7 linked regions of the Homo sapiens genome follow. The protein of the gene in region 5 interacts with the protein of the main gene of each other region in a pairwise test. Each region holds a gene or a part of one and is shown on either strand. Other genes may lie near its edges. The genes, in order: CEP19, BAG3, APOBEC1, TTC23, NOTO, MEIS2 and LDLRAP1.

Region 1 (3,474 bases), on a different chromosome or scaffold from region 5:
CTTACCTTATCATAGTACCTTGATACCGAGGATGCTCGATATGCCCTTTCTTAATTGATAAATAGTAAAGACCCTATAGGTCAGCTATTGGGCTGACTTAGGGGTTCATATTCGATCTTCAGTAAGAGTGCAGTACACTAAGAGGTTCAAACTGGATTGCATCCCCAGATTCACATATGAACAAGTCTATATCCTTGAAAAAACCAGATCTTAGGGATCCAACAGGTTGAAACTAACCCAGGGCCAAGCTGAACTTTCAGGGCAGTTCTCAAAATAACTGAGCTTTGTGGTCGTTCCCGCGCACATACCCCACAATTGGAATGATACAGAGAGGATCAGCATGGCCCCTGCGCAAGGATGACACACAAATTCATGAAGCAGTCCGTATTTTAATTTTAAAAAAAATGAGTTTCACAGGCTGAGCGTGTGTGGCCAGAGCCGGACTAGAACCAGATCTTCTGGGGCAAAGGGGCGAGGGGAATGAATGACATTTATCCAACACCTAGTTGTTTTTTCCCTTTAGCAGGAAGTCATTATGCAACTTACACATATTCATCAGATTTCCTCTGACTTACCCGGACATGTACATGGGAATGATGTGCACTGCCAAGAAATGTGGGATTAGGTTTCAGCCTCCAGCTATTATCTTAATCTATGAGAGTGAAATCAAGGGGAAAATTCGCCAGCGCATTATGCCAGTTCGAAACTTTTCAAAGTTTTCAGGTACCTCATGTCTTATCTTGCCTCCTGTCTTAAATATTCTCTAAATACAGGTTCACATCATGACTCTGTCAGGGACTGGATGTGTGACACTGGATGAATTACTTACTCTCAGTGAGCTTCAGTTTCCTAATCTATAAAAGGGAATTGTAGTGTTTTTTTCCAATCTGATAATTAATAATCCTTTTGGGATTGCTGCCTAGGTTAAATGATATAGCATTATTCAATAATATTAATTCCCTTCTCTCATTCCAAATGTTTTTTATTTGTAGTCTTAATATTTTATTAATACCACTACTGCTATCTAAAAGCTATAATATCACTTTTCTTCTCAGACATATTCTCCAGTTGAAAGTGTTTAATATCTCTACAAAGTGATTTTTAAGTTAAAGAAGTCAAAACTGTATCTGTCCTTCTCCCACCACACTGAAAGCTCAATATAAAGGAATGGTTCTACAAAGTAATTCATTCCAATCAAGCCATTTAGCTACTTGACTATAATGGAGATAATATTTTCAGGGTTCAGAGTTTTTGTTCTGTTTTGGCTGTTGCAGTAGTTTATGGCGTATATGATGTACGTGGTACGTATGTGGTATATAGTTTTCTTCTCTCTCCCAGATTGCACCAGAGCTGCTGAACAATTAAAGAATAATCCGCGACACAAGAGTTACCTAGAACAAGTATCCCTGAGGCAGCTAGAGAAGCTATTCAGTTTTTTACGAGGTTACTTGTCGGGGCAGAGTCTGGCAGAAACAATGGAACAAATTCAACGGGAAACAACCATTGATCCTGAGGAAGACCTGAACAAACTAGATGACAAGGAGCTTGCCAAAAGAAAGAGCATCATGGATGAACTTTTTGAGAAAAATCAGAAGAAGAAGGATGATCCAAATTTTGTTTATGACATTGAGGTTGAATTTCCACAGGACGATCAACTGCAGTCCTGTGGCTGGGACACAGAGTCAGCTGATGAGTTCTGATACCAAACACTCAAAACATGCATTGGGCTAGCAGAATATCCATGTTTATTACCAGACTGGTTCTGGAAGAAGCTGTAAAGAATACTAAATATGTTGGGTTATAGGGGATTGACCATGTTACTTTTCAAAACCAGGACATTTAAAGCATCTACTATGTAGGTGCATGAGGAGTATGGGAAAAACAGAATAAAGGAATCTGCCTTTAAGGAGCTTACAATCATGCCGGGTGCGGTGGCTCACGCCTGTAATCCCAGCACTTTGGGAGGCTGAGGCGGGTGGATCACCTAAGGTCAGGAGTTCGAGACCAGCCTAGCCAACATGGTGAAACCTCGCCTCTACTAAAAATACAAAAATTAGCCAGGCGTGGTGGCGGGTGCCTGTAATCCCGGCTACTCAGGAGGCTGAGGCAGGAGATTCGCTTGAACCTGGGAGGCTGAGGTTGCAGTGAGCCGAGATCGCGCCATTGTACTCCAGCCTGGGCGATGAGCAAAACTCCATCTCAAAAAAAAAAAAAAAAAAAAGCTTACAATCTGACTGGAAGATGTCAAAACCTGTGAAAAGCTAATTAGCAGTATTAAGCAACACAAACATTAGTGCCAAATGCATGATAAAGGCTAAAGAAGGCCAGAGCATATATTACTGTAGAGTAGAATAGTAAGGGAAGACTTTGTCCTTTAGTAAAGAGATAGGAGGTGGCCTGGCCCTTGAAATAGTAGTGTTTAGGTAGATGCTTGTGTAGGATTCCTGATAAGAGCAACTGAAAAGAAGGAGAGGGGAAGTAGTAAAGGGACAAGAAACAATTTTTTTTTTGAGGAACCATAAGCAAATTATAGTTTGACAAGACAAGATTGGGGGACATATATGGTTACCAGGGAATTACCTCTTATGTGTTATATCTTTATATTATTTATCTCTGGAAAAGAGTACCCTGCAAAATTCCCTACAGCTGCAAGCAGATGTCACTTGATGGACAGAGGGGGAATTCTGCCCCTCCGGTATCGGGAAATACATACTAAAGACATTGCGAAACGCTGAACCTCTTCCCATAAATAAAAGGTTTGTTTGTAAAATGGGAAATCCACCCATAATAAATGAACAATAGGCACTGCCAGTTTAGGCCTGTTCATGAATGGATCTGCAAGACAGCATCTTCGTTTAACAACATTATCTGTGATTTGATACATTTATCCTTATTACAATATTGTTTAGTTGGTAGAAATTCTATGTTTTCTACAAGGAAATTGATGTTTATTAAATAAAACTGAAAATAATTACTCAGTGTTTCTACCTGTTCACTTCCACTCTCCTTACCATTAAGCACTTCATTAAAAGGGAGCTCATTCTTGTAGTGATATCACCAGAGTTTTGAAATAGTCAGATCTCATACATACAGTAGCCAAAGGGAGCCAAATAATTTTCTGAATTAGAGATCTTTCCATATCTACATAGTATTCCTTTATTCTTTATTGTATAGATATAGGTAGTTTATTTTTTATTTGAGACAGGGTCTCACTCTGTCACCCAGGCTGGAGTGCAGTGGCATGATCACAGCTCACCAAAGCCTCAACCTCCTGGGCTCAAGTGAGCCTCCCCTCTCAGCCTCCCAAGTAGCTGTGAGTACAGGTGCCCACCACCACACCTGGCTAATTTTTGTATTTTTTGTAGAGACAGGGTTTCACCATGTTGCCTAGGCTTGTCTGGAACTCCTGGGCTCAAGTGATCCACCCACCTCAGCCTACCAAAGTGCTAGGATTACAGATGTGAGCCACTGTGC
Region 2 (3,500 bases), on a different chromosome or scaffold from region 5:
TCCTGTGACTATAAACTACAGCCATATAGATATATAGATTTTTGTGGGGGACAGGGTCTCACTCTGTTGCCCAGGCTGGAGTGCAGCGGGGCTATCACAGCTCAATGCAGCCTCAACCTTCTGGCCTCAAGTGATCCTCTCACCTTAGCTTCATGATTAGTTGCAACTACAGGCACATACCATCATGCCTGGCTAATTTTTCTATTTTTTTGTAGAGACAGGGTTTCACCATGCTGCCCAGGCTGGTCTTGAATTTCTAAGCTCAAGCAATCTGCCCACCTCGGCCTCCCAAAGTGCTAGGATTATAGGTGTGAGCCACCACGCCTAGTAAGCCATATATTTTTTAATGAGCTATGCTCAAAGCAAAAATATCTTGACGCTTTTTGTTTTTGTTTTTGTTTTTGAGACGGAGCCTCGCTCTGTCACCCAGGCTGGAGTGTGCAGTGGTGTGATCTCAGTTCACTGCAACCTCTGCCTCCCAAGTTCAAGCAATCCTCCCACCCCAGCCTCCCGAGTAGCTGGGATTACAGGCGCCCACCAACATGCCTGGTTAACTTTTTTTTTTGTATTTTTAGTAGAGATGGGGTTTCACCATGTTGGCCAGGCTAGTCTTGAACTCCTGACCTTAAGTGATACCCCCGCCTCGGCCTCCCAAAGTGCTAGGATTACAGGATTACAGGCGTGAGCCACTGCGCTTGGCCTTATCTTGGCTCTTATTCATGTAAGTGAATATCTAACACTTCTTTTAAAATCTCACCCTAATTTCATCAACTGGGAAATAACTGGACTATATTATTTCTAAACTATTCCCAGCTTAAAACACTCAATTCCACTATAACGTTCAGTTTGGTGAAATCCTGGAAAGCCTCCCAAAAGGGAACTTTGAATCAGCTCTAAAAGGGAGGTCACCACAAACACGGTTAATGGTAAGAACAGGATGAAATATCATTTCACTGATGATGAGAAACACATGGGAATGATGTGGAGAAAATATCCCTCTCTCTACAAATGGGACCCTCCTAGGATTGCTGAACCCAAGTATGGATCGATGTAGCTGTCTACACTCCAGCAACCTCCTTTTCCATCAAATCTCTTTCGCCAATGCAGACATTCGCAACTTTGGCCCTTACCACTCACAACCCAACCACGCACCCCTCCTAGGTTCTAACAGCAATGGCTGTGTAAGAAGTGACTTTAGAAACACTTTAGAGAGGGTGTTCCACAGCCTGTGTTCTTCAAAACCGTCAAGGCCGTGAAAGCAAAGAAAGGCTGAGGGAAGACTGAAGAGAAGTTGCATCTAAATGCGGTGCTCATGATCCTTGTTTCAGTCCTGGAAGACATCCTGGAAGTGGGGGCAAACTGCTATAAAAAAGATTCAAAAATGTACTGGATAATAATGTTGTAAGAATGTGAAATTTCCTGAATCTGGTAAGTCTACCATGGTTATGAACGAGAATGTCTTCCTCTTAGGAAAATATTTGCTATTCAGGGGAAAAGGGACATGATGTCTGCAATTAATTTTCAAACAGTTAAAACACATCAATAATATACGAGAGAAGAAATGACAAGGCGAATGCAGACATATTGACAAACAGTGAACTGGATGAAGTATATGTGGGGCTCTGTATGATTCACACAACTCTTCTATGAGATTGAAATTATTTCCAAATAAAACAACATTTTAAGATGAGGGTGCTCTATTCCAGGGCCCTGGCCAGTGTGACCATTTGTAATGAAAGAATATCCCACATTTGTTCACGGGGGGCTTTCCTTTTTAAAAACTGTAGCATTCAGCTGCTCAAGTTGCAGCCACAGGGGGCCCAGGGCTGCTGACTGTCCTGCTGCTAAGCTGTGAGCTGCTTAAACTAAATGACATCCTCTTCCAGGAACCTGCACCTTGTGTCTCCACTGGAAGATAACCAGACCCCTGCCTACAACCTTCCCCAGGCCAGCACGGCTTCCAATCCGCCATAGCTGGCTGATGCCTCAGCCAGACCACATGGTACCTGATTACAAAGGGAGGAGGGGGGTTAAGACATGGGCCCTGTGGTCAGGCTCAGCCCTAAGCTGAAGAGATAAAATGAACACTTCTGAAATGCCCCGAATAATGACATGTTGAACTCATACAAGTTGGGAGTTCTCATTAAGGGACTCATATGAGGCATCATGAGATGAGAAGGATGAGTAGGCTTCATGGAGGAGACAAGACTGGCTCGTCCCTCAGAGGACAGGGAGAACCTATACTGTGCGGGCATTTCAGGGAGCGGGTTCAGCATGGGCAAAGGCACAGGGGTGGGAATGAGCAGAATGGGCCTGCAGAGTGGAGTGGGTAACTGAGTGGAAGGTGACACACTGCCTACACCCAAGGTGAGGCTGTGGCTGCGGTGTGGATGGGGGTGTGAAGAGCCCTGAAAGGGTGTGGTGGACACTAAGGAAGCTGGTCCCAGGTATGTAAGTTCTGCCAAGCTGTTTCGTCTGCTCTAAGTCAGCCGCAATGCACAATGATCAGCCCAGCAAAAGCTGCAGAGTGCGGAGGGTTCACAGCCTGAGCAACTGTCCTGCATTTCTGTTAATACCTAGCAATTTCTCGAATCTCACTTGCCTGTAGGTACACGCATGTTAAATAGGCAGGGATGAAGGGGGAACCCAGGGCACCCACAGAGCTCCTGCACCCCTGGAGACATACCACCATAACCAGTCTGCTGACGACTAACTTCCCGTACCTGAGGCCTGTCGACCACGGTGTGCACACGGATGGGCGAGGGGGAGTGGAGTGGCGTGCTGCTCCTGGCTGGTGAGCCCTCCCGGCTCGATGCACCCTGGACAGATGACCTGAACGGGGATGCCGCCCGCAGGGGCCGGGGCTCCCAGTCATCCCCCTGGATCTTGTGGTACACAGGCTGGTGGGTCTGGTACTCCCCCTGCTGCGCTGGGTAGTGCGTCTTCTGGGCTTGGTGGAAGGAGGGCTGGGCTGCTGGCCGGGTAACGTTCTGCTCGTGTATCACCGGAATGGAGATGTACCCCCGCGGGAGCTGGTGACTGCCCAGGCTGCTCCTGCCGGAGGAAGGCAGGCTGGCCGAGGAGGATGAGGATGAGCAGTCAGAGGCAGCTGGAGACTGGGACCGCTGCAAGAGACACAGGGTAGAGGGCATGACCCCACAAATGACTCCCCTGGCTTGGCATCCTGACCACGCCTTCTGCTGTGCACCTCCTCAGGGCAATCCATATTGTAAGACCTCCTATCTGTAATTTTCAATTTTCAAAATGTGCGGTTAAGACTGAGAGCTCTGGGGCTGGGCGCGGTGGCTCACACCTGTAATCCCAGCACTTTGGGAGGCCTAGGTGAGTGGACCACCTGAGGTCAGGAGTTCAAGAGCAGCCTGGCCAACATGGTGAAACCCCATCTCTACCAAAAATACAAAAATTAGCTGGGTGTGGCGGCGCATGCCTGTAGTGCCAGCTACTCAGGAGGCTGAGGCAGGGGAATTGCTTGAACCTAG
Region 3 (3,500 bases), on a different chromosome or scaffold from region 5:
GTTTACAACAGACTGTGGTGATAGTAGCTGTTTTTAGGCCAGAAGATTGGTTAGCCCAGGCTGGAAGTCTCAGAAGTAAAAGTCCAAAATAATGTCATAAAGGACTAGGTCTGAAATTCATGACAAGGAAAGTTACAAAAATACAACTCCTGGCTACGCATGGTGGCTCATGCCTATAATCCCAGAACTTTGGGAGGCCAAGGCAGGAGGATCACTTGAAGCCAGGGGTTCAAGATCAGCCTGGGCAACATAGTGAGACCCCATCTCTAAAAAAAATTTAAAAATCCGGCCAGGTGCGGTGGCTCACGCCTGTAATCCCAGCACTTTGGGAGGCCGAGGTGGGCGGATCATGAGATCAGGAGATGGAGACCATCCTGGCTAACACGGTGAAACCCCGTCTCTACTAAAAAATACAAAAAAATTAGCCAGGCGTGGTGGCGGGCGCCTGTAGTCCCAGCTACTCGGGAGGCTGAGGCAGGAGAATGGCGTGAACCCGGGAGGCGGAGCTTGCAGTGAGCCGAGATCGCGCCACTGCACTCCAGCCTGGGCGACAGAGCGAGACTCCGTCTCAAGATAAAATAAAATAAAATAAAATAAAAAATAAAATAAAAAAATCAGACAGGCATGGCAGCATACACCTTTAAAGGCTGAGGTAGGAAGATCTCCTGAGCCCAGAAGTTCAAGGCTGCAGTGAGCTATGATTGGACCACTGCACACTGGCCTAGGTGACAGAGCGAAACCCTGTATCAAAAAACAAAAACAAAAACAAACAACAACTCTTTTTTTTTTTTTTTTTTGAGACGGAGTCTTGCTCTTTCGCCCAGGCTGGAGTGCAGTGGTGCAATCTCGACTCACTGCAAGCTCCACCTGGGGTTCACGCCATTCTCCTGCCTCAGCCTCCCCAGTAGCTGGGACTACAGGCGCCCACCACCACGCCCGGCTAATTTTTTGTATTTTTAGTAGAGACGGGGTTTCACTGTGTTAGGCAGGATGGTCTCGATCTCCTGACCTGTGATCCACCCCCCTCGGCCTCCCAAAGTGCTGGGATTACAGGCGTGAGCCACCGCACCCAGCCAACAACTCTTTTCTCTAGTCTTGCCTCTCAGCCATCTTTAAATGAACTGCTTTATTCTTTTTAGGGGGTCTAATGTCCAGCAGCAACTAGACTAGAGACTACAGGCTTTCTATACGGGAAGCTAGGTTGGGGATCTTCTTAAGTAATTTACCATTGTGCTTGTTGAATGAGCCAAGATTTGTGTTTCCTTAGAGTATTATCACTGCTGGAGGAATTTTGTCAACTACCCACCTGGGGATGAAGCTCACTGGCCACAATACCCACCTCTGTGGATGATGTTGTACGCACTGGAGCTGCACTGCATAATTCTAGTAAGTCACTTTAGGGACACAAATGTTGATGCAAAAAGAAGCATCCTTCTTCAAAGGTCTTTCCTGAGAAAATTTGACTCATATCTTCTTTTTGACATTTATATTGAGATTTAGTTATTTAACTAGCTAGCTCCTCTTAAGAAAATCTCAGAGCCAGGTATGGTGGTGCACACTTGTAGTCCCAGCTACGCAGGAAGCTTGAGTCTAGGCGTTGCAAGCTGCAGTGAGCTATGATCACGCCAATATGCTCCAGCCTGCGTGGTATAACAAGATCCTGTTTCTAAAACACAGCTGGGTACAGTGGCTCATGCCTGTAATCCAAGCACTTTGGAAGGCCAAGATGGGAGGATTGCTTGAGACCAGGAGTCTGAGACCAGCCTGGCCAACATAATGAGACCCCCTCTCTATAAAAAAGAAAATTATGTATCAAACAAAGTAAACAAACAAGCAAACAAACAACATCTAAGCCTAAGAACAAGAAGTGTGTTTGTGGGAGGTAAGTGGAGAAGGGAATTTGGGTAAACCGATCTAAGATATGGGTGGTCCCCATATTAATTACATTTTATCATTTTTATTCTTATTTTATTATCATTATCTTTTAAGCCACAGGGTCTCGCTGTGTTGCCTAGGCTGGGGTGTAGCGGCTATTCACAGGCACCATCACAGCAACCCACAGCCTCAAACTCCGAATTCCTAGCCTCAAGCAATCCTCTGACCTCAGCCTTCTGGGTAGCTAGAACTACAGGCGTGTGTCATCATGTCTGGCTTTATCATTATTATTGTTCTTGTTACTACAACACATATTGGCTCTACTGTATTTCAGATATTCTCCTTTCTCTTATTAGTGTGTGTAATCTTATTGAAGAGAATGTACGTGTTCCATTGGATTCTCTTGAAAGTGGTTCAGGCTGGGTGCAGTGGCTCATGCTTGTAATCCTAGCACTTTGGGAGGCAGAGGGGAGTGGATGGCTTGAGCCCAGAAGTTGGAGACCAGCCTGGGCAACATGGCGAAACCACATCTCAACAAAAACACAAAAAAATTAGCTGGGTGTGGTGGTGCGTGCCTGTAGTCCCAGCTACTTGGGAGGCTGAGGTGGGAGAATTGTTTGAGCCTAGGAGGTTGAGGCTGCAGTGAGCTGTGATTGCACCACTGCGCTCCAGCCTGGGTGAATGCAGTGAGTCCAGAACCAGACCCTGTCTGGGAAAAAAAAAAAAGAAGAAATAGTTAAATCGTCTTCCAACTGACATTTTTAAATGTTTGTGGTGATAATATTATTAATTAAAATATTCATCCTAAGGATTAAATATAATCCTTTTTTATTCCAGAGTCTTCCACCCTGTTTAAAGATTTCAAGAAGATGGCAAAATCATCTTACATTTTTCAGACTTCATCTTCAAAACTGCCATTACCAAACGATTCCGCCACACATCCTTTTAGCTACAGGGCTGATACATCCTTCTGTGGCTTGGAGATGAATAGGATGATTCCGTGTGTGTACTGATTCAAGAACAAGCAATGATGACCCACTAAAGAGTGAATGCCATTTAGAATCTAGAAATGTTCACAAGGTACCCCAAAACTCTGTAGCTTAAACCAACAATAAATATGTATTACCTCTGGCAGTTTCTGTGGGTAAGGAATTTAGAAGCAGCTTATCTGTGTGTTCCTGTCTCAGGTCCCCCACGAGGTTGTAGTCAAGATGGCAGCCAGCGCTGCAATCATTTGAGGGCTTGACTGAGGCTGGAGAATGTGCTTCCCAGGTGGCAGGCTCAGATGGCTGGCAAGTTTGTGCTAGTGGCTGGTAGAAGGTTTCAGTTTCTTGCCACACAGGCCTCTCCACAGGGTTGCTTAAATAACCTCAGGACATGGCAGTTGGCTTCCTACAGATTAATTTACCTTTTGAAAAATTTCCTGTAGAGATGGAGTTTTGCTGTGTTGCCCAGGCTGGTCTCAAAGTCCTGGACTCAAGTGATCCACCAGCCTCGGCCTACCAAAGTGCTGGGATTACCGGTGTGAGCCACCATACCTGGCCCAGAGCGAGTGATCGAAGAGAGACCAAGGTGGAAATTTCCACGACTTTGATGACTTCATCTTGGAATCACACCCTATTTCT
Region 4 (3,500 bases), on a different chromosome or scaffold from region 5:
GACACATGAATAAACAGAAAGACTAGTGGAAGAGAAGAGAAATCTAGAAATAGACTTAAGTCCATAAGGAAAATCAGTATATGATGAAGGTGTTATCTGAAGTCACTGGAGCATAGATGGGCTCTCTAATTAAATGGTGCTGGACAACTGGGTGGCCATTTGGAAAAAAGGTAAGATTAGATCCATTCCTCATGCCATCCACACAAATAAACTCCAAATTTAAAGAAGAATGACAATTGAAGAAAGTGTAAGAGAATTCCTCTATAAACTCAGTATAGAGAGAGCACCGCAAACATAAAGGACTGATCAATTGTACTACGTAAAAAATTAAAAATATTTGCATAGTAAAAACTGATAATTCATTTAAAAAATATGTATGTCTAAGAGGCTTACTATGTCTTTTACCCAAAAAGTATCAGGTTAGATCTACCACAAAAGTGATGTCATCCTATCTAAACAAGCCACTTCTAAAGTTTCATTTAAAAGAACCACCACAAGGGAGAGAAATTGACCTTGGAGAGGGGAGGGAGAGCCTAGTCTCGTGTTAGTACTGGTTCCAGCTTTACCTTCTTCAGTTTCTTGCGGGCCCCACTGTGGTTCCCCTGCGCCAGGTCTGCTCCTCCCAGGAGCCGGTATGTCTCTGCCACCTCGGGACTGAAATCGCCAAATGCTTCCACTTTGGCTTCCAGGGACTCTCTCAGGATCGAGGTTGCTCTCTGTGAAAGGAACAAAAAGCTATCTGGTTAACAAGCTCAAAGGCTGATTAGGATCATTACGCAACTTGTAACATTTTCACATGGGTGTGGTAGTCTCACGAGCTGAGCCTGTTCTCCTCTTGTATTAGTCCATTCTCATGCTGCTATGAAGAGATACCTGAGACTGGGTAATTTATAAAGCCAAGAAGTTTAATTGACTCACAGTTCCACATGGGTGGGGAGGCCTCAGAAAACTTACAATCATGGCAGAGGGCACCTCTTTCATAGGGCAGCAGGAGAGATAAGTGCTGAGCAAAGGGGGCAAAGCCCCTTATAAAACCATCAGATCTTGTGAGAATTCAGTCACTATCGCAAGAACGGCATGGGGGTAACCGCACCCATGGTTCAATCACCTCCCACAGGGTCCCTACCATGACACATGGGTATTATAGGAACTATAATTCAAGACGAGATTTGGGTGGGGACACAGCCAAATCATATCACCTCTGGTTGAACAAGAGTCAGGAAACAACACGAATGTGAGGAAAGGTGTAAACTATGAAGAGAGAGGACACCTGGCAAAATAAACCCACTCAGCCATTACAGGAATCCATTTCAGTTGAGTAGTAAGAACAAAAGCTGACATGGATCAGTCCTCACATGTCACTAATTGTGCTGAACACACACAATTGTGTGGGTCTCATTTAATTTTTGCTGTCTTCTTTAGATGGGTAAAATTTTAATCCTCATTAGGCAGAGGAGGAAACAGGCACGGCAGTTAAGAAACTTGCTCAGAGTCAGAGGGCTCAGCTGTGGTGGTGCTAGGATCTGAATCCAGCCAGTGATCTTCATACCTTTTTTTTTTTTTTTTTTTAAATCCGTCTCACCGTCTCAGCAGATCTTCCATTTTACAACAGCAGGTGGAAATCTGGAGGTTTTTTTTTTTTTTTTTTTAGACAGAGTCTCTCTTTGTCTACCAGCCTGGAGTGCAGTGGCATGATCTCAGCTCTCTGCAACCTCTGCCTCCCAGGTTCAAGCGATTCTCCTGCCTCATCCTCCCAAGTAGCTGGGATTGCAGGCGCCCACCACCATACCCAGCTAATTTTTGTATTTTTAGTAGAGACAGGGTTTCACCATGTTGGCCAGACTGGTCTTGAACTCCTGACCTCAAGTGATCCACCCACCTTGGCATCCCAAAGTGCTGGGATTACAGGCGCGAGCCACAATGCCCAGTCTAATTTTCATACATTTTAGTCCCATGCTTTTCTCCCTCTGTCCACAATGCTATTCTTACAGAAGTGAAAATATAGCATTCCTGGGCAAATTATCTATGTATAGAACATCCTGAACACACTCCAGGCTTGGCTATTCTCATAGGAAATCGTTTAGGAAACTGAAAGTAAACATTCCAACATGACATGACATTTTGTTTGGTTTATCCAATTTATTTATACTAACATGGAATAAAAATTATGAATTGGTCAGGACATAGTATTTCCTGATATTAGCTTCTTCAGACACCAAAATATGCAGGGGGAAACCCTGTTAAAGTATGTCAATCCTCCATACTTTCTCCAGAAATTCTTCCACGATCTTCCACATGAAGGCACGACATCAGCTGCAGAGCATGGATGCTGAATTTAACTGGCAAATACAGCAGGGACCATGGGAGCTTCCTCATGACACAGCCCCAAAGGGGTCCCAAAAGTGCTCCACAAACAGAAGGACAAGGAGGGCGTTTAATCCTTTTGTTGGCAATAATACAAGTTAGGGGATAGGGCCGGGGTAGGGGAACCACATTACAGGTGCTGATGAGGCAGAAATAAATTTCTCAGGTGAAAGAGGAATCTCTGTAGAGGCAGAGTGATTGTGTAACTCAGCAGTGAGGCCCCACTGAGGTACATGAGGGACTAGAATTTAAATCTAGACTTGCCTGAGGGTAAAGCCCATCACATCTCCCAAGTTCTGAGAGCAAGGACTTGGACTGCTGAGAGTGCTGGGTTTGGTGATATTTCTGTGGGAAAATATCACTGTCAGACTTAGAGGAGCCAGTGATGGGGAGAAGACCCGGGGAGACTCCCTTTCCCAGATAAAGCTTTGGATGCCGCCTACAGCCTGACTGCGGAAACGGGGAGATGTGAAGGAAGTTAAATGGCACGGGTTTCTAGGAAACTGAGATAGTATCAACCTCTGCTAGGAAAAGCTTAAGAGAGAGGAGTGAAGAGTAAAGAGGACTTAGGTGGGATGAGAAGAGGGTATGGGCCACTGGGAGCACAGGAGGAACACATGGCCTGTTGAGGGCCAGTGAGTGGCCAGGCTGAGGAAGTCACAGAAGATTCTTGAGCAAAAGAGTGGCACAACTAGAAGACAAACCCTCACGGAGTAGCTTAACCTGTGGCAGAGTGACCTTCACTTACATTTTACCTTAAAAGGCATTTCATCCCTCAAATATCATGTTCCACAGTGCCCATGGCCATGTGCTGTGGGAACACCTGGGATGGCCTGAGCACAGCCCCATTCTTGGCTCCGGGACTGTCCCTGGGCCCGGCCCTTGTTGGCCAACACCTGCTAGAACCCACAGTGAGAGGTTTGCAACCAAATGGTGAGAACAGCATGAGACTGCCATGTTTGGCTGGGCAGGTGGTGCCACACACAAGGGTGCCTGGCAGGAGCATGGGGAGGGCTGAAATCCAGCCTATGGTCCTCTCCAACATGGGCGGTATCTACCTGAGGAAGGGGCAGCTTTTTCTATTATGATAAGGGCATTGGATGGGCTGGCAGTGGCCCTAGAATGAAAAGAGCCAG
Region 5 (3,500 bases):
GATTATGGCGGTATTCTTTTGTTACATAGAAAAAATTTTAATTTTTATGTTTGATGTGTTTTTACAAATCCTTTTTTTTTTCTTTTTTGAGACAGGTTCTCTGTCACTCATGCTGGAGTGCAGTGGTGCGATCACGGCTCACTGCAGCCTCAATGTTCCAGGCTTAAGCACTCCTCCTTAGCTTCCTGAGTAGCAGGGACCACAGGCATGCGCTACCATACTCAACTAATTTAAAACATTTTTTTTTGTAGAGATGGAATCTCACAATGCCTGTCTCAGCCTCCCGAGTAGCAGGGACCACAGGCATGCGCTACCATACTCGACTAATTTAAAACATTTATTTTGTAGAGATGGAATCTCACAATGTTACCCAGGCTGATCTTGAACTCCTGGGCTCAAGTGATCCTCCTGCCTCAGCCTCCCAAACTGCTGGGATTACAGGCATGAGCCACTGTGCCTGGCCCCACATCTTATATGATACTTGGAAAGAACTTCCTCACTGTGAAGTCATAAAATAACTTCCCCATTTTTTTCTAAATTTTTGTGGGTTTACCTTTTTACATTTAAATATTTCCTCCATTTAGATTTTTTTTAGTGCAAGGTATTGGGTATGGATCCAGCTTAATTTTTCCCAGATCTGGAAATAATCCCTCTTCCCCATTGGATTATCACTTCTGTTTTAATTTTTATAATAACCATTGACTTTCTTCTTGCTCTGTGCCTGGCACAGTGCTAAGCACCCTGTAAGCATCATATGCTTTTGTTTTTGTTGTTGTGGTAGTTGTTGTTGTTGAGACGGGGTCTTACTCTATTGGCAAGGAGTGATCTCGGCTTGGCTCACTACAACCTCTGCCTCCCGAGCTCAAGTGATCCTCCTGCTTCAGTCTCCCAAGCAGCGGGGTCTACAGTTGTGCACCACCACACCTGACTAATTTTTGTATTTTTTGTAGAGATAGGGTTTTACCATGTTGCCCAGGGTGGTCTCAAACTCCTGGGCTCAAGCGATGGGCCCATCTCAGTCTCTCAAAGTGCTGGGATTATAGGCATGAGCCACTGTGCCTAGACAGCACCATGTTAAAATCCTGACATCTCTGGAAGTAGGGATTATTATCACCATTTTACATGTGAGGAAATCAAGGCTCACAGAAGTACATTGTCTTGCCCAAGGTCCTCTGGCTGGTAATTGGTGGCAGAGCTAGGATTCCAACTAGAGCTTTTTTTTTTTTTTTTTTTTTTTTTAAGACAGAGTCTCACTCTATCACCCAGGCTGGAATACAGTGGCACAACCTTGGCTCACTGCAACTTCCGCCTTCCAGGTTCAAGCGATTCTCCTGCCTCAGCCTCCTGAGTAGCTGGGATTACAGGTGCCCACCACCACATCTGGCTAATTTTTGTATTTTTAGTAGAGACGGGGTTTCGCCAAGTTGGCCAGGCTGGTCTTGAACTCCTGACTTCAGGCTATCCGCCTGCCTCAGCCTCCCAAAGTGCTGGGATTACAGGTATAAGCCACCATGCCCGGCCTCAACTAGAGCTCTTAAGGAACACACAGTACAGCCTACTTTCTTCTCCAAAGGTCAATTTCTGATTCTGAAACAAGGCTGACTAGATACACCAGGCTGTATGTCTGATGGGCTTTTCCTGATCTTTTGGTCTACCTTGGCAGGCACAGTGTAAGCCTAGTGGGCCCAGTGGTTGGAGTCCTAAGCAGCCGGGACCCCAGATACACTCCCTTTGTTGGGGCAGTCTGTCTGCCAGCCCTGAGGACTCCCCAAGGCTAGTGGGGGCTGAGTGGCCTTAGCATTATGCTTGCCATTCTTCTGCCTAGAATACTATACCCCCAGATAGCCCAATGGCTCACTCCCTCATCCCCATCAAGATTTGACTTAGGAACTGCTCTTGGTTGATGCATCTCCACTGGCCCACAGCTTGGTCTCATTTATTCCCGTGGCTTAAAATACCATCTATATAAGCTGATGACTCCCAATTTTTTTTTTAATTGAGACAGAGTCTTGCACTGTCACCCAGGATGGAGTAGAGTGGGCTCTATCTTGGCTCACTGCAACCTCTGCTTCCCGGACTCAAGCAGTTCTCCTGCCTCAGCCTCCTGAGTAGCTGGGATTACAGGCATGTGCCACCATGCCTGGCTAATTTTTGTATTTTTAGTAGAGACGGGGTTTCACCATGTTGGCCAGGCTGGTCTTGAACTCCTGATCTCAAGCGATCCGCCCCCTTCAGCCTCCCAAAGTGCTGGAATTACAGGCATGAGCCAACGTGCTCAGTGATGACTCCCAAATTTGTATCCTCAGCTCAACCCTCTCTTCTGACTTCTATCTCTTCTGACCTCATTTCTAAGATGTAAGCTCCATAACGACAGAGATTTTCTGTTTTGTCCTGAAACCATGCATGACACACAGTAGACATTCAAAAAGTATAATATTTGTTCAGTGAATTAAAAGGGTGAACCCCTGGGGGTCTCTTCTCTGCCCATTCCATGGCGTTGCCAGAAGCAGTCAAGGAGAGGAAAGGAAGGCAAAGAGAAGGGAGGTTTGGCAACTCCTCTTAGGGGCCAGAAGTGAAGCCACTTGGCTAGAGAGTAGTGGTGGCAGACAGTCTCATTGCATTGTCCCTTCTTTCCCATTTGTTTGTTTCCTGTTATTTCTGCACAGTCTCTTTCCACTGTCTTCTTGCACTGTTACCTGGCCAAGGGGAAGGCAAGGTAGCAGAGCTGTGTGTGCCTTCTCATTTTGCCCAGATGGGAGTGCAGGGGGCTTCTGGCTAACCTCCCCTGCTGCTGGATAACCTCCCCTGCTGCTGGTTGCTCTTTAGGGTTGGAGCTGGCTCACTGCTCAGGACTCTGGGCCTTCCCAGACTGGGCCCCAACGGAGGACCTACAGGACACTGAGAGACAGCAAAAGAGAGTCCGAACTATGTTTAACTTGGAGCAGCTGGAAGAGTTGGAGAAAGTGTTTGCAAAACAGCACAATCTGGTGGGGAAGAAGAGAGCCCAGCTGGCAGCTCGGCTCAAACTTACAGAGAACCAGGTGGGAGTAGGGACTCCTATTGGGCCTGGGCTGCACCTGGGGACAAACACTACCTCAGCAAGGCCCTAAAAGGAGGGTGGGAGGAAGATATGGGCCCTCTTCCCTGTGCCAGGCTGTTGAGGGGACAGGCCCTGACTTTTTGCACACTCTATATAATGAAAAAAAAAAGTCCCATTTGAAGTCACATAATGTGAACAACTTGGAATGTTAACTTAGATTATTAGTCTAAAAATTGATAATAAAGGATTTCCATGCTAAATAAGGACCTGCCAGTAAAATTAAGTAGATGTGGCCAGGTGCGGTGGCTCACGCCTCTAATCCCAGCACTTTGGGAGGCTGAGGTGGGCAGATCACAAGGTCAGGAGTTCAAGACCAGCCCAGCCAACATAGTGAAACCCTGTCTCTACTAAAAATACAAAAAAATCAGCTGGGTGCCTATAATCCCAGCTACTTAGGAGG
Region 6 (2,923 bases), on a different chromosome or scaffold from region 5:
CGGACACCGGACTTTCTAACTGAGTGGCAACTTGTAGCGGAGGTCCAGGCTCCTTATCAAATTGCTGGCCTGCTAGCTAATGGAGAACTTGTGGAGGATCCCTGTCCAGTCCCTTTGAAGGAAGGTCCCTCCTTTGACAGCTGCTAGAGATATTAGCCACATTTCCCTTCCCAAATCTGCTCCGGGTTAACAGGCCCGCGGGGGCGGGAGGGGGTGAGGAGGCAGGAGGATCCTGGTGGACTCTAACGAGGGTGAGAGCTGAGGGGCGTGAGGGGTGCTGACCTAGGGGGTGGAAGAGAGGAGGGGTGGACGGAAGACACAGACTTTCCTGGTCTTTTCTCTCTTTTTCGTTTAAAATGTGGCTTCTTGCTCAATTCCCAACCCTTAACAGATGGCGACTGCAGTTCTCTCAGAATTTCTTAAAGAAAGGGAAACCTTTGGAATTTATTTCTGCTTTTGCTTTTTCATATAAATAAAAAAGTGTTTTTATATTACTCTTGTTTTGGAGAACATAAGCAATTTTATTCAGACTACAGTATTTCCTTTAACACTATATGGTTGTCAAAACACCATTCCCAGTTTCTTTGCTTTTGACAGCTGAGTCTTTCTTAAATATACCCAAATCGGAACTCTTTACACTAAATAGTAAACCCGAGATAGGAGCAAGTGCCTTCCGGGGTGGTGTAAAAAAAGCATTATAAAAATTGGACAAATCTATCACTTCTCTGTGTTATCATGGGGTTGGGGGTGGGGGAGAGCAAGGTAATGCAAACAAATATTACAATTATCATTCATCTCCAAATATTTAAGAAGGTTAAAGTTAACATGATAGGACGTGGGTTTGACGAATAAACTAAGCATGAGATGACTTTATTCATTAAAACCAAGAGTTGAGAGCTCTGGTCTCTAAACTTCAATGAGATAACTTGATAATTGCATAAAACACATCCTAAACACGAGCCAATTGCCAAGGAAACCCTTCAGAATTTACTGAGTGGAAAGAAAAAAAGGTTCTTTTTCCCACCTGATGTGAGAGTTGATTTATAATGGGGAATTTTCATAGTTTACATAAAAGTATTTAAAGTAAAAATAGGCAAATATTTAAAATTTACAAAAAGACTTCATGTAAAATAGAATAGCAAAAATGAGAGGGAAGCTATCTCTCTTTCCCAAGTGGCACTGAATTTCTCTATTAAGTTAGTTTGTGTCAGAAGCATTATTTCTATGTTTAAACAGCAACACAACACTTAAACTGAAATGTATTTGTAAAAATTCTACCTGACTAAATATAACACAAAACAATAGAAGTGTATTTCCTCGTTCATTTATATAGAACCTCCATAAATGCTGTCTGAAATGGAAAGATGGAAGAGCCCCAAATAATAACTATGGATTTCTTCCAAGTTTAAGTTTGCAGAGATGATGAATAATTTCCTTAGCCGGTTGACATCACATATCTAGCCAAAGTATATGACATTATTCTTTCTAAACAAAGATTCAAAATTTAAGAGTTAAAAAATTCCAGGATAGTATATTTATTTGAAAATTGAGGGGACATGCCTCACCCTTTTTGCACACTTTAGCAGACATTGTTTGTGCAGTATCAATAAGCTAATGGTATAGATTTCCAGGAATGTTGCATAAAATTTTGAAAATGGCATTATACCGTCCATTTTGTTTTGTTTTGTTTTCAGAAAAAAGTTTAAGTTTAGTTATCAAATCATCACACTAGCATCCCTGCACATGGATGTGTCTGAAATAAAAATATACCACAATATAATTTATAAAATATTAATGATTAAGTAATCTTTTAAAGTCAGAATTTCAAACTCCATAGAAGTTGTTTACTTATCTATGAACACCCATATGTAAATTTTCATTTACATATCCAACAATATTGTAGTAAGACAGGCAGAGGAAAAACACAGGCAGATAAATTACCTTTGAGCACAGACATTATTTCTTATGTTGTAAAATTAACCCTGAAAAGTCCTTTATTCTGGCAGAGGATGCCCATGAAAAGCTTTATCTGAAAGTATATATTTTTTAACGTCATGCATCTAAAAAGGAGGTTGAGCATGTTCAAGGGGATCTTTCAACCTGGCTCATCATGTACACATAGTTTCGTACCTTTAGAAGTTTTCTGCTGGTGGAACTTATAGGTCAAATAGACATTGAAAGGCTATAGATGATTACCTTAAAAATTATTGATGAGTTTAAAATATACTCAACTGCTGGGGGGAAAAACCTACTTTTAACACTGTATAGAGTTGGCATTGTGCAGTCTTGTCCTAAAACCATTAAAAACGCAAAAGCCTAACAAAAAATCAAAAATGAAATATTTATTACCGCTTTTTGTGACTTAACACCTTTTTTTTTTTAACATAACGTCACAGTCCTCATACAAGTATTTTAATGTAAATTTGACAAAGCTTAAAGGTAACAGCATTTTCTTCTAGTGAGGAACACGTGCTGAGAAAAGAAGAATTCATGGACATACAATACCAATTCCACAGCAGATCTGATACTAGCAAAAACATTCTTTTTTTTTTCAATTGAGGTAAACACATAGAATATCTAACATGAAACAATTAATAGACCGAACTCTGTACGAAGTTTGTTACAGTATTCTCTTGCTCCTTTTTATCCCCCAAGCTTTGAGTTTCTGATAAAGTCCTAGTTATGGTTCAATGACCATTAATAACTTTTTTTTGTGTTGAGGAAAGCTGCCCAACTTAAGATTGTTTTGTCCACAACCAAGGCTCAGAACTCCTGGAAGAAGCTCCTGCTCTGTCTTTAAATCTTCATTGGCAAGCTCTTTGAAGAAGAGTCCCCCAAAAATAATAATAAGAATTGGCTTATGAAGCACGAACTATAAAGATCTGTTTGAAACTAAAGGACACATTTATGGAGGAACAAAGGC
Region 7 (3,500 bases), on a different chromosome or scaffold from region 5:
TGCTGGGATTACAGGCATGAGCCACCGTGCTGGGTCTGCTGTCACTTTTAATAAAGGGCTAAAGCTTTCCGGCACATACCAAGGCTCCATGTAAGCAGCTTTACATAAAATGTTCTCATTAATCCTCCTAAGAACCTATGAGGTCAACGCTTTAATCAAACCCATTGACAGACAAAGACACGGAGGCCATGGAGGCTCAATCACATAACCAAGTCCAGAGAGCCAGGAAGTGCAAGAGCCAAGTTTCGAGCCCTATTTTCAAGCCCTGAGCCCTCTTTACTTCAATGCTACCACTTGCTGAGGGCAAATCATACCATTTCTTACTGAATCCTTAGTGCAATCCTGTGAGACAATGATTCTACAGATTAGGAGACTGAGGCTCAGGGAGGCAAAGTCATGAGATGAAGGCCACATACAATGAGTCGGACTTCAACCCTGAGCGGTTCCCATGGCCCCAGCCTGCACTGCTTTCCTCCCTGTGCGCATCCGTAGAGACCAACAGGGGCATGTGGGAGGCTGGGCAGGAGACAGTAGCCCAGGGAGAGCAGGGAAGGGTAAGGGTGGGTGGGGAGAGGAGAAGGCGATTTCCCAAATCGGAGAAGGTTCGAGACCCACTCTGCTTCCCACCCCCTGGATGGTCCTAGGGAAGTCCCCTCTCCTCTTTGGGACTAACATTCCCCCCTCTCTGGGCTGTGACAATGGTGCAGAACAGAGTCCACAAGGAGAGTTCTCTAAAAGCACCAACCACACAAATGTCAGGAAATAAGGGGATGAGCCTGCCTCACTGGGTGGGCAAATGGACCAGGAGGGACACGTGGAAAGAGCGCCCCACCACGTAGGTGAGGGCCCCGTGGAGGCAAATGGGCATGAGGGCAAAAGCAGGCTGCACTGACAGTTTCTGACCATCCCCGGCTCCTCGGAAGGAGGACATGAAGAAAGATGAATGAACACCTCACACTTCCACCTGCCAGAGCCCCTTCCTGTCCCCTACCTCTCTGTCCCATTTTACAGAGAGGAAACCCTCACAGATGCTGTGCTTGTAGGAGGTGTTTGTTATGACTGCACCATTTTACAGATGAGAAAGAAAACTGCTCTTCAGCCTCACACACAATCTTGTTGAGGACAGAGCAGGATCCAGCCAGGAATCAGCTTCCAGGGGCCACGAGAGGTAGCCAGGGCCAGCTTCCCTAGACCATCCCCCAGGGAGGGGCTGGGAGATGTCCTGGGCCCTCCCTACCTCCTCCTGAGGCCTTCCTCACTGGCTCTGATTGAAAAGCCACAGGAAGAAAGTTTGGGTATTGCTAGTTCCAGGGCAGCTGAGGCTCTGGCAGGGATGTGGGCCCCTACTACAAGGCTCAGCTTGGTTCTGGAGTTCCGGCTCTGTCAAGAGCAGAAGTCTGGGTCCAGGTGGCATCACCAGGTCCCCTACCCAGTCTGGATCCCTGCTGCCCCTCTCAGCTCCTATCCTAGAGCCCTGGGCCTCCAGGGGCTCTGGTCCCCCTCTCCACAGCCAGAAGGAGCCTTGTACACCCACATTTCTCTGGATTTGCCTTGAGCAAGCCACTGTCCCTCTCTGAGGCCATTTCTTCATCTGAAAGAGGGTGCGGGTGTCAGGGCTGGGGAGGGTTATACAGGAACTTACAGATGTACCCAGTTCCCCTCATGTCTTGAGATCAGGTGAGCAGGGACTTACTGACTGTCATCTAGAACCTGGCATGCAGGTAGCGCTCAATACTCGCTCAAGGAAGAAATGACGAGGACAACCCCATCCCATCCCCAGCCCTGGCCCCAGGCCCAGTGACCCTCCAGCCCTAGATCTCATCCCTGGGCCTCCACCCCAACATGAGGCCAGGTCTCCACTGAGATGACCCCAAAGCCCAACATGACCTTATCCTCTGTCCCATCAACCACAAGCCTATTCCATTTGATCCTCCAAAAGAATGTGAAAGTCCCTGAGATGTCCCCAGTCCTGGGTTGAGTGATGGGGCCCTGGAGCAACTCAGACACAGACCCTGCTCTCAAGTTCAGAATAACAGCACCATCATCAGGGAAAAACAGCGCTTTCATATAACAAAGATGCAACAATAATAAAGCCATAGCTATTACCATCACCTCTAACACTCACAGCCACCTTGCAAGCAGGCATTCTCTCATTCCCATTTTACAGAGAGGAAACTGAGACTCAAAGGACTGACTCTAAAGCCCAAGCTCCTGACCATGAGACCATACTACTTTATCATGCAGCAAACTACCTTAATTCTAGCAAAAGATCAGGTTTTTGGAGGCGGAGGCATTTCTTCTCACCTGGAATTAGGTATTCCTAATACCTAAGGCTTCCCCTCTGCAGGCTAGGATACCCAGGCCACCAATTTCAACCTGAGACCCATCTAAGCAAGGACAGCAATGGAAAGAAGTGCTACTGTGCCTATGACCCGCACCCTTGGCAGACATTGATAATCAATTGCAGCTCTACTTCCCTCTGATCCTTTCTCAGCACAAGGCCCCAGGCAAGCAATACTAATTGATCAAGGTTTGAACATCTCATTATCCATCCCTACCCCTGGCAAACATTCTCCACTCTCCCTCTCCAGCCCCCATTTTCATGTCCCCATTCTCCCATTTCCTCTGGTTCAGCCCTTTCCTGGCCCCTTTCCAAAGTCACTTCCGCTCCCTCCATTCCAAAGAACCAAAGCCTGCCAAGGTCACTGGTGATCTCTCTGCTGTCAAAACATTCCCTAGTCCTCCCTGACCCCTGAAATGTTCAGCATTTTTCTGCATTCCTCCTTCCCTGGCCTGACCCTTCCCCTCCTCTAACCACGTCCTTACAGACTGGTTGCCACTCATCAGCCTTAGGCCCTCAGCTCAAGCCCCTCACTTGATGATACAACTGAAGCCCAGACAGGGATGGGACCTGTGCAAGGTAACATGGCAAGTCAGAGGGACTCTCCTCACCCCACCCAGTCCACTATAGACAATCCCCACAATGACCAGTGACTGTGAGGGAATTTTAAGTTTCCCCGTCTCTTCTCCCACAATATCCCTACATACCCCCTACCCCAAGAAGCTCCAACCATGCAGAGCTTCTTCCTAATAATGTAATATTTACTGTCTAACTTCTTTGCCTTTGCTCAAGTAGTTCCCTCTATCCTAAATGCCCTTTCTTCACTTGATCAAACCCCACACATCCAACCTCTTCCAGGAAGCCTCCTTTGAGGCAATATAGCCTCGTGGTTAACAGCAAGGCCTTAATCCTAAGATATCAGCTCCAATGCTTCATGTCTGAGTCATCTTGAGTGAGCTCATTACCCTCCCTGAACCTCAGTTTTTCATCTTTAAAATGGGGGAAACAACAGCTCTGACTCCTGGGGGCTGTTGTGACCCTTGGATAAGTTTATAGAATTTAGCAGAGAGGCAGGCCCATCGCAGTTGCTCAGTACACCTTCCAGTGGGGCCTCATCCCTCCTGTGGGCGGGCTGTTGGTGCCTTTCTTGACTGTAAAT

The links.
Region 1: the proteins of NOTO (region 5) and CEP19 interact in binary tests that used the Homo sapiens proteins (3 or more experiments, as listed by UniProt).
Region 2: the proteins of NOTO (region 5) and BAG3 interact in binary tests that used the Homo sapiens proteins (3 or more experiments, as listed by UniProt).
Region 3: the proteins of NOTO (region 5) and APOBEC1 interact in binary tests that used the Homo sapiens proteins (3 or more experiments, as listed by UniProt).
Region 4: the proteins of NOTO (region 5) and TTC23 interact in binary tests that used the Homo sapiens proteins (3 or more experiments, as listed by UniProt).
Region 6: the proteins of NOTO (region 5) and MEIS2 interact in binary tests that used the Homo sapiens proteins (3 or more experiments, as listed by UniProt).
Region 7: the proteins of NOTO (region 5) and LDLRAP1 interact in binary tests that used the Homo sapiens proteins (3 or more experiments, as listed by UniProt).

What each region holds. Positions count from the first base shown.
Region 1 is NC_000003.12:196,705,777-196,709,250, reverse strand, and holds the end of CEP19 (centrosomal protein of 19 kDa), read left to right. Parts: intron 1-523; 5' UTR 524-593; coding exon 594-723; intron 724-1,338; coding exon 1,339-1,700; 3' UTR 1,701-2,974; downstream 2,975-3,474. UniProt on the Homo sapiens protein: Required for ciliation. Recruits the RABL2B GTPase to the ciliary base to initiate ciliation.
Region 2 is NC_000010.11:119,671,880-119,675,379, reverse strand, and holds part of BAG3 (BAG family molecular chaperone regulator 3), read right to left. Parts: intron 3,126-3,500; coding exon 2,724-3,125; intron 1-2,723. UniProt on the Homo sapiens protein: Co-chaperone and adapter protein that connects different classes of molecular chaperones including heat shock proteins 70 (HSP70s), e.g. HSPA1A/HSP70 or HSPA8/HSC70, and small heat shock proteins (sHSPs), e.g. HSPB8.
Region 3 is NC_000012.12:7,648,909-7,652,408, reverse strand, and holds the end of APOBEC1 (C->U-editing enzyme APOBEC-1), read left to right. Parts: intron 1-1,267; coding exon 1,268-1,386; intron 1,387-2,712; coding exon 2,713-2,862; 3' UTR 2,863-3,009; downstream 3,010-3,500. UniProt on the Homo sapiens protein: Cytidine deaminase catalyzing the cytidine to uridine postranscriptional editing of a variety of mRNAs. Form complexes with cofactors that confer differential editing activity and selectivity.
Region 4 is NC_000015.10:99,155,582-99,159,081, forward strand, and holds part of TTC23 (tetratricopeptide repeat protein 23), read right to left. Parts: intron 717-3,500; coding exon 567-716; intron 1-566. UniProt on the Homo sapiens protein: Participates positively in the ciliary Hedgehog (Hh) signaling.
Region 5 is NC_000002.12:73,205,574-73,209,073, forward strand, and holds part of NOTO (homeobox protein notochord), read left to right. Parts: intron 1-2,826; coding exon 2,827-3,041; intron 3,042-3,500. UniProt on the Homo sapiens protein: Transcription regulator acting downstream of both FOXA2 and Brachyury (T) during notochord development. Required for node morphogenesis.
Region 6 is NC_000015.10:36,888,704-36,891,626, forward strand, and holds the end of MEIS2 (homeobox protein Meis2), read right to left. Parts: 3' UTR 501-2,923; downstream 1-500. UniProt on the Homo sapiens protein: Involved in transcriptional regulation. Binds to HOX or PBX proteins to form dimers, or to a DNA-bound dimer of PBX and HOX proteins and thought to have a role in stabilization of the homeoprotein-DNA complex.
Region 7 is NC_000001.11:25,550,106-25,553,605, reverse strand, and holds part of LDLRAP1 (low density lipoprotein receptor adapter protein 1), read right to left. Parts: intron 1-3,500. UniProt on the Homo sapiens protein: Adapter protein (clathrin-associated sorting protein (CLASP)) required for efficient endocytosis of the LDL receptor (LDLR) in polarized cells such as hepatocytes and lymphocytes, but not in non-polarized cells (fibroblasts).